2 separate regions of the Homo sapiens genome follow, and region 2 is linked to region 1. The links come from fine-mapping of genetic effects on gene expression. Tissue or cell type: whole blood. Region 1 holds a variant in brackets; the other region holds the start of a gene. All regions are shown on one strand. Distances are from middle to middle.

Evidence for each region. PIP is the estimated chance that this variant, and not a neighbour inherited with it, causes the effect.
Region 2: SMAD1 starts here. The variant in region 1 is fine-mapped to the expression of SMAD1 in whole blood (INTERVAL, PIP above 0.99).

The regions. Positions count from the first base shown.
Region 1 is chr4:145,524,055-145,532,162 of GRCh38, reverse strand. All of the region lies in intron 2 of SMAD1 (SMAD family member 1), which reads right to left. Among named protein-coding and RNA genes, the nearest start is that of SMAD1-AS1, 11 kb to the right of the region's middle. The variant G/CG (reference allele first, on the strand shown) is at 3,735.
Region 2 is chr4:145,476,888-145,484,995 of GRCh38, reverse strand. It overlaps SMAD1 (SMAD family member 1), which reads right to left and starts at 3,143. Exons shown (of 7, transcript NM_005900.3): 1 at 2,958-3,143. RefSeq lists silencers at 2,325-2,424, 2,515-2,574, 2,915-3,074, 3,245-3,374.

The sequences.
Region 1 (8,108 bases):
GTGATTCTGCTATTATACTCAGCTTTTCAGCGTTGCTAAGGTACACGGAAAAGCATGAAAAAGAACAGTTAAAATTGTAGAGAGGGGCTGAGCTCTGGAAAGGATTCCTGTAAACTCTAGATGTGAGAGCTTTTTTAAGATTTTGAAGTACTGCTTGAAATTCTATCACCAAGTTGTCAGTGGTAAAGTAGTCTAGTAATGAGACAAAGTCTGACAAATCCCCACGTGGGCTGTGACCCACCAAATGTTCGTGAGAAAGCAGCTTTTTTCTTTTTTAAACACGCAAGAGAGTTCTGATATATGTTTGCCCATATAGAAGTAACAGAAAAAAAAAAAAGAAGTAACGGACACAAGCTACCTGTTACCTGGCAGTACAGAAATGCTTTCTAGTTCTGAGAAGGTGGTAAAGGCATTTAGGTTAGAGTCAAGACACCTTAGTTCTAGTCCTGACTCCCGTAACCACCTTTGTGACTTTGAGCCAATCACTTAATGTCTCAGGGACTCAGTTTCCTCACACAAAAGAGCAAGAAACTTGCTCTCCACAGGGTCTTCCTGCTCTAAATTCTGCAAGTCTTCTGATGGATGAGAATGCTGCTCATGTACACCTGGAGTTTTGTAATGTCCAAAGCTCAGCCCCAGATGGCATCTAAGTTGAATCTCAGGACATTTCAGTGAGGCCACCTACAAGCAGAAAGGAGGCCCAGGGCTAGGGACAGAATGGCCCCAGAGCCAGTCAGCTGCAGCAATTCTTGTGAGAAAGGGAGGGCAAGCTGCCAGAGCAGCTGTGCCCAATATGATGCCTACACGAGACAGATGTCCCCAGTAGAGTGTGTTCAGTGACCTTCTAAACAGAGACACTTCAAGTAGGAAGTGCCGGAAAGGGTAAGAGTAAGAACACTTAAAATTAATAGTATACACATTTATGAAATAAAATTCCTTACCTCAGCATATGTCAGGGAAACTTTACGCTGAAGAAATGATTCTTGGAACCTCAATAGAGGTTAAATTTTAATGAAAATATATAACAGCCTAAACCCCTGAGTGGTGGCACTTTTTTGTCTGCTTATTGGTGATGAGGTGATAGTACGGAGGGTCTATAATATAAGGTTCACTGGGTACCATATATGCCTCCATCATGCAGGGCACTGCAGGTATGAGTCAACAGGACAGACACTGTCCTTGCCCATTGGGAAAAGTGTCTATCACTAAATCCTCACAGCAGTTATCTCTGTTTTACAGGTGAAGGATCAGGCTCAGCCTAGCTAAGTAACCCATGCAAGGTCACACAGCTGCTAATTGAGGGCCAGGATGTGAATCAAGGTCTGCTCATAACCACTAGACAATCACTCAGTACTATAAAACTGGAAAGAGACTGTGGAAGTTGTTTTTTAAATTCTTTTTCCATCCTTCTGTTTGTTTTTTTGGGGGCAAGATCTTTTTAAAAGGTATGATAGTTTTGCCTAAAGGTAGCAACACGGTAGTATTTACTTTCTGGGAGTATAGTTACTCAAGTACAAATATATTAAAAGACAAAGATGTGAACATAATTTGACATAGATAAATGAATTTCATTCAACAATATCATAAAGCATTAAACAAAAGCCACTAAATTTACCTAAAAATCACCTAAATCTAACTCAACTTCTGAGAATCCAACTTCCTAGATAATGCCAGGCCAATGATTCTTTTTGTATACCACAGATTATTTTCTTGAAAAATACCTTCTCTGGGCACCCACAGAACGTCTGCTATGACTCCATAACCTAGTTCAGATTCCTGCTTCAACCTATCTTTGTGGCTTTTTGCAGTTTTCATCTGCTAGTTTCATACTTCTGCACCTTTGCTCACTTGGCCATATTTCCAAGTCTCAGTTCTAACAGCACTCCCATGGTGCCTTTCCCGGTCTTTCTATCCACCCCTGGTAGAAAAGAATTCCTCCCTATGCCTCAGTGTGCCCTACACAGACTTTCATTGTAGCATCTGCAACATTTTATTGCTAAGTTGACTTTACTTCACCTGGACTGTAATGCCTTTGTGGGTAGAACTGATTTTCTTTCTTTTGAAAGGAAATAGGTGCCAGTGTCTGGCACCTAATAGGTCCAGAATGAATGTTTTTTCAATATGTTTGTAAATTGTATTGCTATTCCTGACCTGTCTACTATAAGTGGGTTCATATAAACCAGTCTTTCTCAAAGTTCAGCCCTCAGACTCTTTGCACCTGAATTAGATACTTATTTAAAAAGGCAGATTCTTATACCTCATCCCAGATATAACAAGTCAAAACCTTCAGCAATTCTGGGTGAATACAGCCTAGGTACAGGAAGACAAATGGTTACTACATGCACTGGCAAGAGAGCTAGGTGTCTGGCCCTATCTATGTCTCTAAGTAGCTGTGGAACTTGAACTTCAATTTTTCTCATCTTAAGTCAAATTTCTAGAGATCATCCCTTTCACTTACAAAAAACTCTACACAGTATTGGTCCTGATTCTTTGACAGTATACAGATATAAATCCAAATGACATGGAAAAGGCTGGCATGGCCTTATAGTAAGCTTACAGAAAATTTACAGGGCCCAGTTTTTTTGGTCAAGAGGCATGTTGTCATGGAAAAAGCACTGGCTTGGGATCAAGATAGCCCACGGTCTTAGCTGTATGAATTTAGGTGGCATAAATTCCCACCTCAGTTTCCCCAAAGGGATAGCAAGCCCTTAACAGCACTCTGAGAATCAAGAATGGTGGCACACAGCAGTTTGTCAAACCTAGTTCCCTCTCTGTCTTTTCTCTTCCTACTTTCACCCTGGTAGTTTCCTTTCTTTTGCCAAGTATTTATCTGCTTTACTTCCACAGAAGGAAGGTGCTCTGTTATTAGAGACTTCGAGAGTTGTTAGAGGTAGAAAAAAACTTCAGGGTATAACCTAAAAACATCAGGAGAAAAAAAAATACCTTCAAAAGCCACACATGAAGTATAGTAACAGTCAGAAGCAGGTTTTAGTTTCTCAGTTCCAAAATTGGAAATTCTGCTTATTTACTAGCCGATTAACTAGGGCAATTTACTATTTAAACCTCACTTTTAATAATAAAATAGGAATAATAGTACTTCTCAGATTTTCTTTTAATATGGTGCTTATACATGTGTGTACCAAGTGCCACATACCAAGCTGTACCAGATATTAACTCATTGAATCCTCTGAACAACTCTGATCCTAGGTACTACATTACCTCTACTTTATAAAAGTGGAAAATGAGATATAGAGAATGAGATAGAGAATGTATCACCAATAACCAGGGAAGACAGGATTCAAACCTAGGCAGCCTGGCACTGCAGTCCAAGTTCTTAGCCACCGTGCTATGGTGTCTCTCAACGTTGCACAAGTTAGTTTTAACAAAGTTCCATAAGCACACAGTAAGAGGTAGTCATTACACAAAGAGCAGTTAGCCTATGGTGTCTATTCATCTATTGCACGATTGATATGTAAATGATTAACCTAGGTGTCACCCAGGCATCTTTAATTTGTAACTGCAGCTGAATTAATTATATTCAGCTCATTCTGAGTTTATATTTGATGCAATTAAATATATTCCACGAAAATGAGATACTTGGTATCTAATAAAGAACATTATGGTCAGGCGCGGTAGCTCACGCCTGTAATCCTGGCACTCCGGGAGGCCAAGGTGGGTGAATCACTTGAGGTCAGGAGTTCGAGACCAGCCTGGGCAACATAGTGAAACCCCCC[G/CG]TCTCTACTAAAAAATACAAAAGTTAGGCCGGGTGCAGTGGCTTACGCCTGTAATCCCAGCACTTTGGGAGGCTGAGGAGGGCAAATCACAAGATTAGGAGTTCGAGACCAGCCTGGCCAACATAGTGAATCCCTGACTCTATTAAAAATACAAAAATTTAGCTGGGTGTAGTGGCGGGCGCCTGTAATCCCAGCTACTCAAGAGGCTGAGGCAGGAGAATCACTTAAACCCAGGAGGTGGAGGTTGCAGTGGGCCAAGATCGTGCCACTGCACTCCAGCCCTGGTGACAGAGTGAGACTCAATTTCAAAAAAAAAAAAAATATATGTGTGTGTATGTGTGTGTGTGTGTGTGTGTGTGTGTGTGTGTACAAACAAAAAAATTAGCCGAGAGTGGTAGTGCATGCCTGTAGTCCCAGACACTCGGGAGGCTGAGGCAGGAGAATAACTTGAACCCAGGGCCGGGGCCGGGGCGGGGAGCGGTGGAAGTTGCAGTGAGCCAAGGTTGCGCCACTGCACTACAGCCAGGGTGACAGGGTGGGATTCTGTCTCGAAAAAAAAAAAAAATTACTGATCAATGGGAAATAAACAGAAGCCTCCATAAACACTTCAAGGGCAGATGTGGACTCGCAATCCAAAACTCATGCAGCTGGTGCACATATGATCACATTCTCTACTACCAAAAACTCTGGATGCCCCTCCTTTTTGTTGAGAGAAAACTGATTAAAGACTTCTTTTGGGAAGCAGTATAGCACAGTGGTTAGCAGCATGGATTTTGCAGTTAGGCTTTAATTTGAATCCTGGCTTTCCAGATACAAGTTGTGTGAAAAATTTACTCAAATTCTACATATCAGTAGCCACATTGGTACCATCTTCCGGCAGTCGTTGTTAGAATTAAATGAGAATAGGGCCGGGCGCGGTGGCTCACGCCTGTAATCCCAGCACTTTGGGAGGCCGAGGCGGGCGGATCACGAGGTCAGGAGATCGAGACCATCCCGGCTAAAACGGTGAAACCCCGTCTCTACTAAAAATACAAAAAATTGGCTGGGCGTAGTGGCGGGCGCCTGTAGTCCCAGCTACTTGGGAGGCTGAGGCAGGAGAATGGCGTGAACCCGGGAGGCGGAGCTCGCAGTGAGCCGAGATCCCGCCACTGCACTCCAGCCTGGGCGACAGAGCAAGACTCCGTCTCAAAAAAAAAAAAAAGAATTAAATGAGAATAGATGGTAAGTGATAAGCACAGTGTCCAGCACACAGAAAGCATAAAAAGTCACTATTTTAACTTTATTAATATTTTATTCTAATAATATCATTCCTTTTCTGAATATCTGTTTAATGAAAAGTTGCTTACATTACAAATTTTGTTTCTATTCTAAGAAAGATACACAGAAGTGATGTTCCTTGTATCACTATTTCAGTCATATTGTTTCAAGAATGCATTAGTACATAAAGCCTTTTCACATGCATTAACTTTATCCTCAACCTGAAAAGTAGATGTAACCACTCCCCCATTTTATGGGTTAGCAAACACAAGCTCAAAGAGGACAAATGACTAACCCAAGGTCAAAGTTATCAAGTGCCAAAATTCAATCCAGCCCTTCTAACCCTAGATTCTTCCCATCATATTTTAACTACTAAAGAGAAATAAATATCTCCTTTAAATGGCCTTATTGTCCAGAATATCCTAAAGAACTCCACATTTACTGGTTGGCAATGGCATTCTACTGTGAGCAAGAGCCTTTTCCTTCTCCCCCATTCATCTTCAGCATGGATTCCTGTTTTTCTCCCAGTGGTTTATAATTCACTTCTGTCCTTAATTATTCCGTTGATCAAATTGTCTCAGATTTGTCACAAGCTGGCCTCTGGGTCCTTGTGACATGCTCCCATCAGTTTTCTCTTAAATAACATTTTAAGATTAGCTATTATTTTTCCTATTTAAAAGCTGTAAGTTATATGTGAATAGACATTTATCCACAACTTTTCTCCCAAGTTGATCATCTTACTTAAATATCTGTCAAGCACACCACCATACCCTGGGTAAACTTTTCAGGTGCTCAAAGAAAGGTATTGTCACACACAAAAAATACTGCAAAATCTGCTACAAAGCTAGCTAGCTAGAACTGATAGGGAAACTACAGGGAAACAAAGGCAAAAACATATAAGGCAATTTCACTCTGTTATTTATATGTTTATTTTTAGTTTACAATAAGCTGTCCAAATGCTCCTTATAAAATCACTCTTCTTTTACTTTATTCTCACTGAACATCCCAGACAGGCCACTGGGCAATTAGTCAAGTGAAGGTGATGTGCGACCACATAAGCCAGACCACGCCAGGCCACAATTTAGATAAAAAAATGTCTTTTCTCATGCGAAAGAATAAAGAACTAAGAAAAGCAGCATCTCTTGGAGAGCTGTTTTAGAACCAGGGTAGTGATATAGCAGAATATAAACCTGATCTTCCATTTTTAAAACCTGCTAAGATTCCAGAGCATGAACATTACAATTTAGAGAACTGGAGGAAAATTGCCAAACACTCCTTTGTTGACCTAAATCTTGATTTAAGCCACAGAATGTGTTTCCAACACCCTAGATCTTTTATCAAGGAAATTACACTTACCTCTAGTTACATAGTTTTATGTGGAGCAGACCTGCAATTGAGTATTATGGTCAGGCTTCAGTGCTAGAGAAATCCTGTTGAGGACTGAGGGCAATGATAATTAGAAAAGTGGAGTGGGTAAGCAGCAAGTGATTATCTCTCCATCTCCCATACACCAGGAGGCCTGGCCCAGCTCAGCCCAGCTCAGCCCAACCCACCCCAGCCCAAACCCAGAGGAAACGAGTCTGCATGCAGACATTCAAACTAGATTCAGCACCAGTATCAAACAACTACACCAATCCCCAGCCAAACTGGCAAATTAACAAAATGTGGGGGTTTTAGCTCTACTATTCTGCAAGCCCTCTTAGATTTTTACCACAGTGCTCATGGTATCCACCCTACAGCTGCTCCAAATCCTCCAGCTCTGCTTCTTCAAAAACAAATAAACCCTTGTTGCTTCCCCATCTCCTCCCCAAACAAATCTCATTTTTCCAAATATCAGGGCAGAGGTTTGATGATCTGGCTAATTCATGCTTATTAGTCATGATGCTTAGTCTTTCCGGAGAACATTTTCATTTTAAGGGGAAAATGGCAAGGGGATAGAACATATATTTGAGAGAAAGCAATCTCTGGTCTGTTCTCTGGCCTTTTGATATCTAGCACCAAAGAGGCTGAAAGTAAAACCAAATTAATCAGCCTGAGATCATTACATAAGCCGACCATCCTCTTCTATTTCTCTCCTTTTTCCAAGTATCCAGCAAGGCCACCGGGCACTCCCACATGGGGCAAATCACCTGTGACTCCTCCTAAACTCAACCACATATAAAACTTACTCAAACCTCCAAGAAATCATTGTTTCAGGATGATCCACATGTGGGAATAATAAGCCAAAAAGCACAATTCAGAAGGTCTTAATTATTATTTCACCCTAAGCTAGTCTTGGAAACATTGGCCTGGTTTTTTTCTTTTAATTTAAAATATTATGACAAATGTTTTTCTATGGTTTTCAAAACTGCTGTTTTTCTTCAGTCACTTTTTTTTTTTTTCGTTTTCTTTTTAACAGCTGCTGGCTGGCTGGTGTTCTTTCTGCTCTATGAACCAGCAATGGAGGGTGGAAGACAGCTGCACTTTAAATGAATCTGAAAGATCTGAAAATATCTTCTCTTGCCCACCTAATACTGCAGAAATAGAATAAGAAGAAAAATAATAAAGCAGAAGACAAACGTCAGGAAAGCAAAAGTATGAGAAAGGTACTTTGTATGATCTATAGACTACTGTCTTAAAATTTCAAATTAAAGTAGATTTGGCAATAGAAAAATTCTGCCCAGAAACAAATCACATTGTAGTTGTCTAGATGTCTGCTTCCATCGATGTATAACAACTTATGTACTTTTACAGTTTATGTAAAAGTAACATACAGTAATGGCTGAAACAGTATCTATTCATCAATTAATAACCCAAAACAAATGCCACAAATGCATTTAAGAACAGTTGCTCAGAAAAGAAAAAAAAAATTAAAATAACAAGCTTCACATTTGCCTAGGATTTAACACTGGAATCCACTAAAAGATCTGGGTATAAAATCCTACTCATGACTATATTATTTCATGTTTCTAGTAATATTATAGATGAAAATAATAAAATTATCAACCATAAGCCAATGCCAATGATAAAATCCTGGAAAGCGTTCACTGTCTTATCTCCATGTCCACTAGGCTGTGTGGATAGAAATCTAAGTAGTGACCTTGTGCTTTTTCAAAAAAGAACTTCCAGACTGAGCAT
Region 2 (8,108 bases), 47 kb after region 1:
TTGTCAGAAACTTAAGCAAAATAAGGATCTTCTTTTCCTGAACTGTTTATATGTTCAATTCAAATATCTTTGTTTCTGGTATAGGCCTGGTAAGTTTGACTAGTTAAAGAAATAACATGTCAGTAGATATCAATACAGTGAAAATTCAGGGGTAATAAAAGGATCAAAGTTAAGTATGTGGTCCACTGATATTTTATAAGGTCCCTAAGGCCAAGTTAAATTCAAACTCACATGAAGCATTCAGTACACATATCAGAGCTGCAAAGGTCCTTATCAGCATCCCTAAAGCATCTGTTTCTCCTCTACCAAATGAAAAGCTACTTATACAATTCAGATTGAATATCTCTGCATTTATCTTAAATTTTTCTACAGAAATTCATAGTTCTGTAAGCCTTTTCCCTCTTTCACACACACTGGTATCCCTGGCCATCTCAGCCTTTCCACTATAAACAAAACCCATGTACCACCCATATCTGAAGTATAACGCCAGACTCCTGCTTAGCTACCCCTGTAATATGGTTTAATTATGATGACTGAACTAATAGGCTGACATCATAGACTTTTACAGGCTGACCCCATGTCATCCTGATGTATCATTTTGCACCAGTTCAGTGCTGTAAATCAATTTAAGATCTCAAGCAGGTTGAAAAGGCTGGTAATGATGCTTTCTCTGCCGTCTCTGGAGACTCTACATTATACCCAACTTACATTATTTATAAAGCCTCAGTGATGCCTCCATTAGCCTTGTAAGACTACACAAATGAGATCTTTTATACACACACACTTGGCCTTGATTATGTAGGCTACTGCAGCTTAAACATGCTAGTCTAATTACTATACCCAAGCTACTTCTTTTTCCAATCTACTAGGTTATTAGATTTAATATTTAACCCAGAATTGCTAGAAATCAAAATTACAAAGTGAAATTTAGTTTTTAACTAATAAATGTAATAAACGTAGTTGAGAAAATGTGACAACTTCCTCTTAATGCCTTAATGAACTTAGTAAAAATAACATAAAATTCCAAGAAGTGTAAGAGGCCAATGTCTTTAATTGCCTAAAAATTGTCATTTCTCTAAAACACAAAGGTCATCAGCTCTTCAAGGATACGAAACCAAAGGATACTGCAAGAGGTAAAATGTATTTGGTTACATACCTATGGTTGTAGGGGTCAAAACTAAATCAAGGACAAATCCCTACCCTCAGAAGAAACTCGATCCTGCCTGGATCCTCTAGAGGCTCTGGCATCACCCACCTCCAGAAAAATCATCTCTCACGACCCTAGCTACACCTTCCTAAGAACTGCAGTATTACACCAATGATACACCACCTGCACAGAAATAGCAAATAATTGCAAATGGGAAAGAGAGTGGGAGAGGGCAGAACAAACACTTTAATCAGTACAGCATATTTAGATCTGGCACCTACATCAGAATAACACTGATGCAACAATATTTATACCAATTGAAAATGCTGGGGCAGTGAACACTTCTGTTCCGATTCTTTTTTAACACGGTCCACCTACCTTCAATACAATTTAAAGTAATTACAAACAATTTGAAAAATCAACATGGGCAGGGAACAGTTTTCTCATTGTGTTACTGAGGTGTGGGCAAGTTATCCACAACAGGCAATTAGACCCAGAGATGTTCTGAAATAGAGGCATTCTGAGATTTAGCGGCTGAGAGTTTCAGCAACAGGAAGAAATAACAGAAATCATGCAACTTCTGTATCATTCCACGTACTTTGAAACTTCAGATACAATGGAAAGAAAAGAGGGGGGAGGGCAGAGAAAAAGGACAGTTGTCTCAGCACTCACGAAAAGGATGCTTTCTCAGGAGATGGTTCTGAGACCGGCCTCAATTTTCAGAAGGAACGCGCCTTTACTGGTTATCTTGCACCGTGTATTTAAAAATTGCATGCTCTTCAAAATAAACAAAAGCTCAGCTACTGTAGCTGTGAGATCTGGCAGGCATTTGTTCCTCCTCCCCTCCTAAAGCACATCAAGAAAACGTTCTCCCTTTAAAGCCTTCATACAGTTTCAGCAACTAGAAAAACAAGCCCACATCTGTCTCTCACGCCCACCACCCCCACCTTCCTACAGAAACAACCCCGAGAAACACTAACAAAGACAGGGAGCAGAGTAAAGGAACAGTTGTTCAACCGCGAACTCACGAATACACATGCAGTGAGGCAATCGACTCCGGTAAAGGGAAAGGAACGAGACACCAGGAGACGCAGCGGGTGTAGGCGGAAGAGGGGGAAAAAATTACGCGCCGCCGCCAAACCTTTGAATAAATTAGAGGGGATCTCGGTGCGAACTTTCCTTGACCTCGACCCCAAAGAGGCTTGCTGGGGCCGAGAAGAAAACCCGTGCGGGATGTGGAGGGGCCCGGGGCGCCGGGGTCCCCCGCCCGCGAGACCCGCTCCACCAGGCGCCTTGGAGAGCAGCGCCAGCGGTCGTCCTCCAGCTCCCGCAGGGGTCGCCCCGCCGGCGCGGGGGACACAATGGGTCCGCGGGCCACGCGAACGGGCCTCGGCCCGGCGGCAGCACGGGAGAGATGTGAGGAGCGCGCGGAAGGGGAGCGCGGCCGGGGAGATCCCAGCGCGGTCAGGCCCGGGAGCCGAGGCTCGGGGGCCCGGGAACTGGGCTTCCCACAGCAGAAGACCCAACAAAGACACCAGGGGAGCCCGGCGGGCTGGGCGCGAGAAGACGTGGTAGCAGGTTCGCTCCTCCGAGCAGACGGGAGGCGCCATCATGGGGGGGGGGGGTCGCGGCCCGCCCCGCGCAGAAAGAGCCCCCTTCCCGCCGCTGCCCGCGCCCCCAGCCCAGCACGACCGCGGCGGCCCCACGCGTGCAGAGACGGCGGCGGCGGCGCTGGAAAGCCCGGGGCGCCGAGGGGAGGGCTGGGACGCGGCATGAAGGGAAAGTTCGGTTCGGGTCTGTTTCGTTTTACCGGGTTGGCGGCGCGCCCGTCCGTGTGGGAGCACGAGTGGCCGGGCGAGCGGGGTCTCGCGGCCCGGGTCCGGACGGCCGGGCGCTGCGCCACTCTCCGCTCCCCGAGCCTCGGCCCGGGTTGAGCCGCTCGGCCTCTCCTTTCTCCGCCCGCCCGCCTGCTTTCTCCTGGAGCCTGGATTGATCTGGTCGCGCTGGCGTCAGGGAGTCGGAGCTGCCCAGCCTCCACTCCTCAGCTGCCAATACCCGGCGCACTCGCCTGCCCGCCCGCCCGCTCACACGCTCACCCGCTCACCCGCGCGCCGCCGCCGCTGCCGCGCGACCAGGGATCCTCTCCAAATTCCCGGCCCGGCCGGCGTGAGCGCAGCGCGGCCGGGGCCGGAGGACGGCGCGGGGGAGCGGCCGGAGCCACCCCCTTCTACCGGCAGCCCCACGCCCCGTTTCTTCCTGGAGAAAAAACAGTGTGGCGGCGTTCAGGCTTTCCTAACCCTGCCTTTTTAGTCCCGGTGGAGCGGACTTAGTCCATTATCTGCAAGTGAATTTCGATGTTCCATATGTTTATTTTCTGAAATGTTCATTAACGCTTCCACCGCGCCCACTGAATCGTTCTATAAACGTGGAGTGCATGTTGACAGTTACCTTTCGAGACGCGCCCTTTTATGTCTATCTTTCGTTGCCCCTCACTCACTCTCCAATAATTTGCAGGCCCCAGAAGTTGTACGTACCCAGAATTGGATAGCCTAGTAAATACTGCACGTGGTTATACAAACCCTGAGTCAACAGATGCGTTTTGTGTCAACTCAGGATCCAGTGATTCGAGTAGGTAACCTTGTTGCTCCAAATAATGGCATGCCATAAGGAGATACTGCTTTAGAACTCCACATTTTTGGTCCAATTTCTACAGTCTTTTAGATGATGCCAACTCCCCCGCACTTAACTCTTACCTACCTGATCTGCATAGACATTGAAAATATCTTCTTGCAAGAGTCAACTTTTCTCTTGGCTAACTCTTGAAGCTGCATAAAATCTTGCATAATTACTATAATGTTGAGTTACGTTTAGAAAAAATGATTTTTTTTTGAGGAATAAATTTCACATGAAGCAAAAAAAAAAAAAAAAAAATCACTCCCAGCAATGTATATCAGAATATGTCTTCTAATTAAATTCCTTTTTCCCTTAACCTATTTGAGCACTTACTGGTCAATTCGTGGGCCTCATCTTATTTTCCCTAAAAGCAGCGTTTGACGCAGTTGATCATTCTCTGCTCCTTAGAACAACAGGAAAGTGAACCTTGTTAAATGCCACTCGGATCAGGCCACTCCTCTGTTGAAAACCCTCCCTTGATAAATAGTATAAAGTATCCCATACAAGAGAACATTATTCAGCCATAAAAAGGAATGAAGTACTGATACTGATGCATGCTACATGGATAACCTTTCAAAACGTGAAGGGAAAGAAGACAGACCACACATTGTATTCTTCCACATATGTGAAATGCTCAGAGTAGGCAAGGCTATGGAGACAGAAAGTAGATTGGTGGTTTGCATAGGGTTGGGGAAATGAGGAACCTGGGGAGTGACAGCTAAAGGTTATGGGGTGACAAAATTGTTCTAAAACTAGTTTCTGGTGATGGTTGCACAACTCTGTGCATATACCAAAAGCCATTAAATTGCACACTTTAAATGGGTCAATCATTTGGTATGTGAATTTTACCTCAAGCTATTAAAAAAAAAGCATGACAATGAAATGCAGTATATGACCTTGATTGGATCCTGAATGGGGAGGAGGAGCTATAAACTGTCATTTTAAAGTCGTTAATTTTTAAAAAAATCAAAAATGGCATTTATTTAATTTTGAGACGGAGTCTCGCTCGGTCGCCCAGGCTGGAGTGCAATGGCACGATCTCGGCTTACTGCAACCTCTGCCTCCCGGGTTCAAGCAATTCTCTTGCCTCAACCTCTCGAGTAGCTGGGACTACAGATACACACCACCACGCCCATCTAAGTAGAGACGGGGTTTCACCATTTTGGCCAGGCTGGTCTCAAACTCCTGGCCTCAAGTGATCCACCCGTCTCAGCCTCTCAAAGTTCTGGGATTACAGGCATGACCCACCGCGCCCAGCCTAGATGGCCTTTCTTAGTGCAGTCCTAGTAGTCTTAAATGATAACTATTAATATTATTATGTATGCAATAAAATTTGATTTTGCCCATTGTGCAAATTATTTCCTTAAATGATAATAAAAATTTGGATATTCTTTTTAAAAGGACATTGATGAGACCATTATAAAAACCTAAATATGGACTGTATATTAATATCATTTTATTAAATTTTTAAAAAATCCTCCCTTGGGTCCTCATTTCACTCAGAATAAAAGTTCCCATAATAAGCACAAGACTCTACATAATCTTTCCTTCCCCTCCTTTAGCACTCTGACCTGCACTTCTACTCTTCCTCTTGCTCACTTCCCCAAGTCACACTGGCATCCTCACTCTTCTGGAACAATCTGGGCACATTCTCACCTCAGTATCTATGTGCTAGCTGTTCCCTCCCTTTCTGAGTTCATTTTGTGTTGCTGTAATAGAATACCACTGATAGAGTTTGGCTATGTATCCCCACCCAAATCTCATCTTGAATTGTAGCTCCCATAACCTCCATGTGTCATAGAAGGGACCTGGTGGGAGGTAATCGAATCATGGGGGTGGGTTCTTCCCATGCTGTTCTCGTGATTGTGAATAAGTCTCATGAGAATCTGACGGTTTTATAAAGGGCAGTTTCCCTGCACACGCCCTCTTGCCTGCTGCCACGTAAGATGTGCCTTTGCTCCTCCTTCACCTTCTGCCATGATTGTGAGGCTTCCCCAGCCGTGTAAAACTGTGAGTCCATTAAACCTTTTTTTTTTGAGACAGAATCTCACTCTGTCACCCAGGCTGGAATGCAGTGATGCAACCTCAGCTCACTGCAACCTCTGCCTCCAGGGTTCAAGCAATTCTCCTGCCTTGGCCTCCCAAGTAGCTAGGACTACAGGCATGCACCACCACGCCTGGCTAATCTTTTTTTGTATTTTTTAGTAGAGACGGGGTTTTGTGGTGTTAGCCAGGCTGGTCTCAAACTCCTGAGCTCAGGTGATCCACCTGCCTTGGCCTCTCAAAGTGCTGGGATTACAGGCGTGAGCCACCGTACCCAGCCCTAAACCACGTTTTCTTTATAAATTACCCAGTCTTGGGTATTTCTTCATAGCAGTATGAAAATGGACCAATACAACCACCAGCTGGGCAGTTTATACACAATAAAAGTTAATTTAGCTCATGGTTCTGGGGGCTGAGAAATCCAAAATCAAGGGGCTGCATCTGGTGAGGGCCTTCTTCCTTCATCACAACATAGCAGAAGGCATCACATAGCAAGAGAGAGAACATGAGAGGAAGGGTAGAAAAGGGCCAAACTCATGCTTATATCAGCAATCCCCTCCTGAGATACCAAACCGCACTCCCATAATGCCATTAATCCATTCATGAGGACAGATCCCTGTTAAAAGAAAAACTTTAGGCAAATTAAATTTAACAGAGTTTAATTGAGCAAAGAGCAATTTGAGAACTGAGCAGCCCCCAGAACCAGAATAGTTTCAGAGCAACTCTGGGGCTGCCACAGGGTCAGATGATGTTTATGGGCAGAGAAAGAAAAGTGACAGAAAATGGAGTGAGGTACAGAAAAAACTGGATTGGTTAGAGCTAAATATTTGCTTTATTTTAACACAGTTTGAACAGTTGGCTGCCTGTGATTGACCAAAACTCTGTGATTGGTACAAGAGTTGGCTACAGTCTGTTTGCATATCCAGTTAGGTTACAGTTTGCTGTGTACAGAGAAACCTTTAGGCCTAACTTAAAATATGTATGGGCCGGGCGTGGTAGCTCACGCCTGTAATCCCAGCTACTCGGGAGACTGAGGCAGGAGAATCAGTTGAACCCGGCAAGCGGAGGTTGCGGTGAGCCAATATCATGCCATTGTACTCCAGCCTGGGCAACAAGAGCAAAACTCCGTCTCAAAAAAAAAAAAAAAAAAATATATATATATATATATATATGTGTGTGTATATATATGTATATACATATGTACATATGTATATATACGTATATATATATATATGGAGGCAGCTTTAGCCTAAACTTAATTTAACAGTCCTCATGACATAATCACCTCTTGAAGTTCTCACCTCTCAACACTGTTGCGCTGGGGATTAAGTTTACAATATATAAACTTTGGGGAATGCATTCAAACCATAGCACTCCCTGGACAGCTCTTCCCACAGATGTCCACATGGCTCACTCCTTCATCTCCCTCAAGTCTTCACTCAAATGTCTCCGTATTATTTAGCCAAAAGAGCAGGATTTTTGGTCTTCTGTGTTCATTGCTATAATCTCAGCACCTGAGCAGTGCCTGGTATTTAACAGGAGCATATTAAATACCTGTTGAATGAATGAGTAAGTGAAGCACTGTTCTAGCAGGGGATATGGTGGCAAGCAGAAAAAAATCCCTGCCCTCATTAAGGAAGACAGATAATAAATAAATACACGGCCAGACGTGGTGGCTCACACCTGTAATCCCAGCACTTTGGGAGACCGAGGTGGATGGATCACGAGGTCAGGAGTTCAAAACCAGTCTGGCCAGCATGGTGAAACTCCATCTCTACTAAAAATACAAAAAAAAAAAAAAATTAGCCGGGCATGGTGGCATGTGCCTGTAGTCCCCGCTACTTGGGAGGCTGAGGCAGGAGAATCACTTGAACCCGGGAGGCAGAGGTTGCAGTGAGCCGAGATCGTGCCGCTGCACTCCAGCCTGGGCGACAGAGCGAGACTCCATCTCAAAAAAAAAAATAAATAAATAAATAAATAAATACGCAAATATGCTAGGTAGTGGTACAAGTGATGGAAAAAACAGGGGAAGAGGGATTGAGAATGGGAGAGATGACTATTTCTAAAGGGGCAGAGGAAACCTCACTGCAAGAGGTCCTGAAGGAAGGGAAGGAAGCACAGTACACACTCTGAGGGATGAGTTCCCAACCTCCCAAGCAAAAGGAAGAGCAAGTGTAAAGACCTAGAAGCTGAGTCTACTTTACACATCCACTGAAAAGCTGGGGGGCAGGGTTGGGGACAGTGC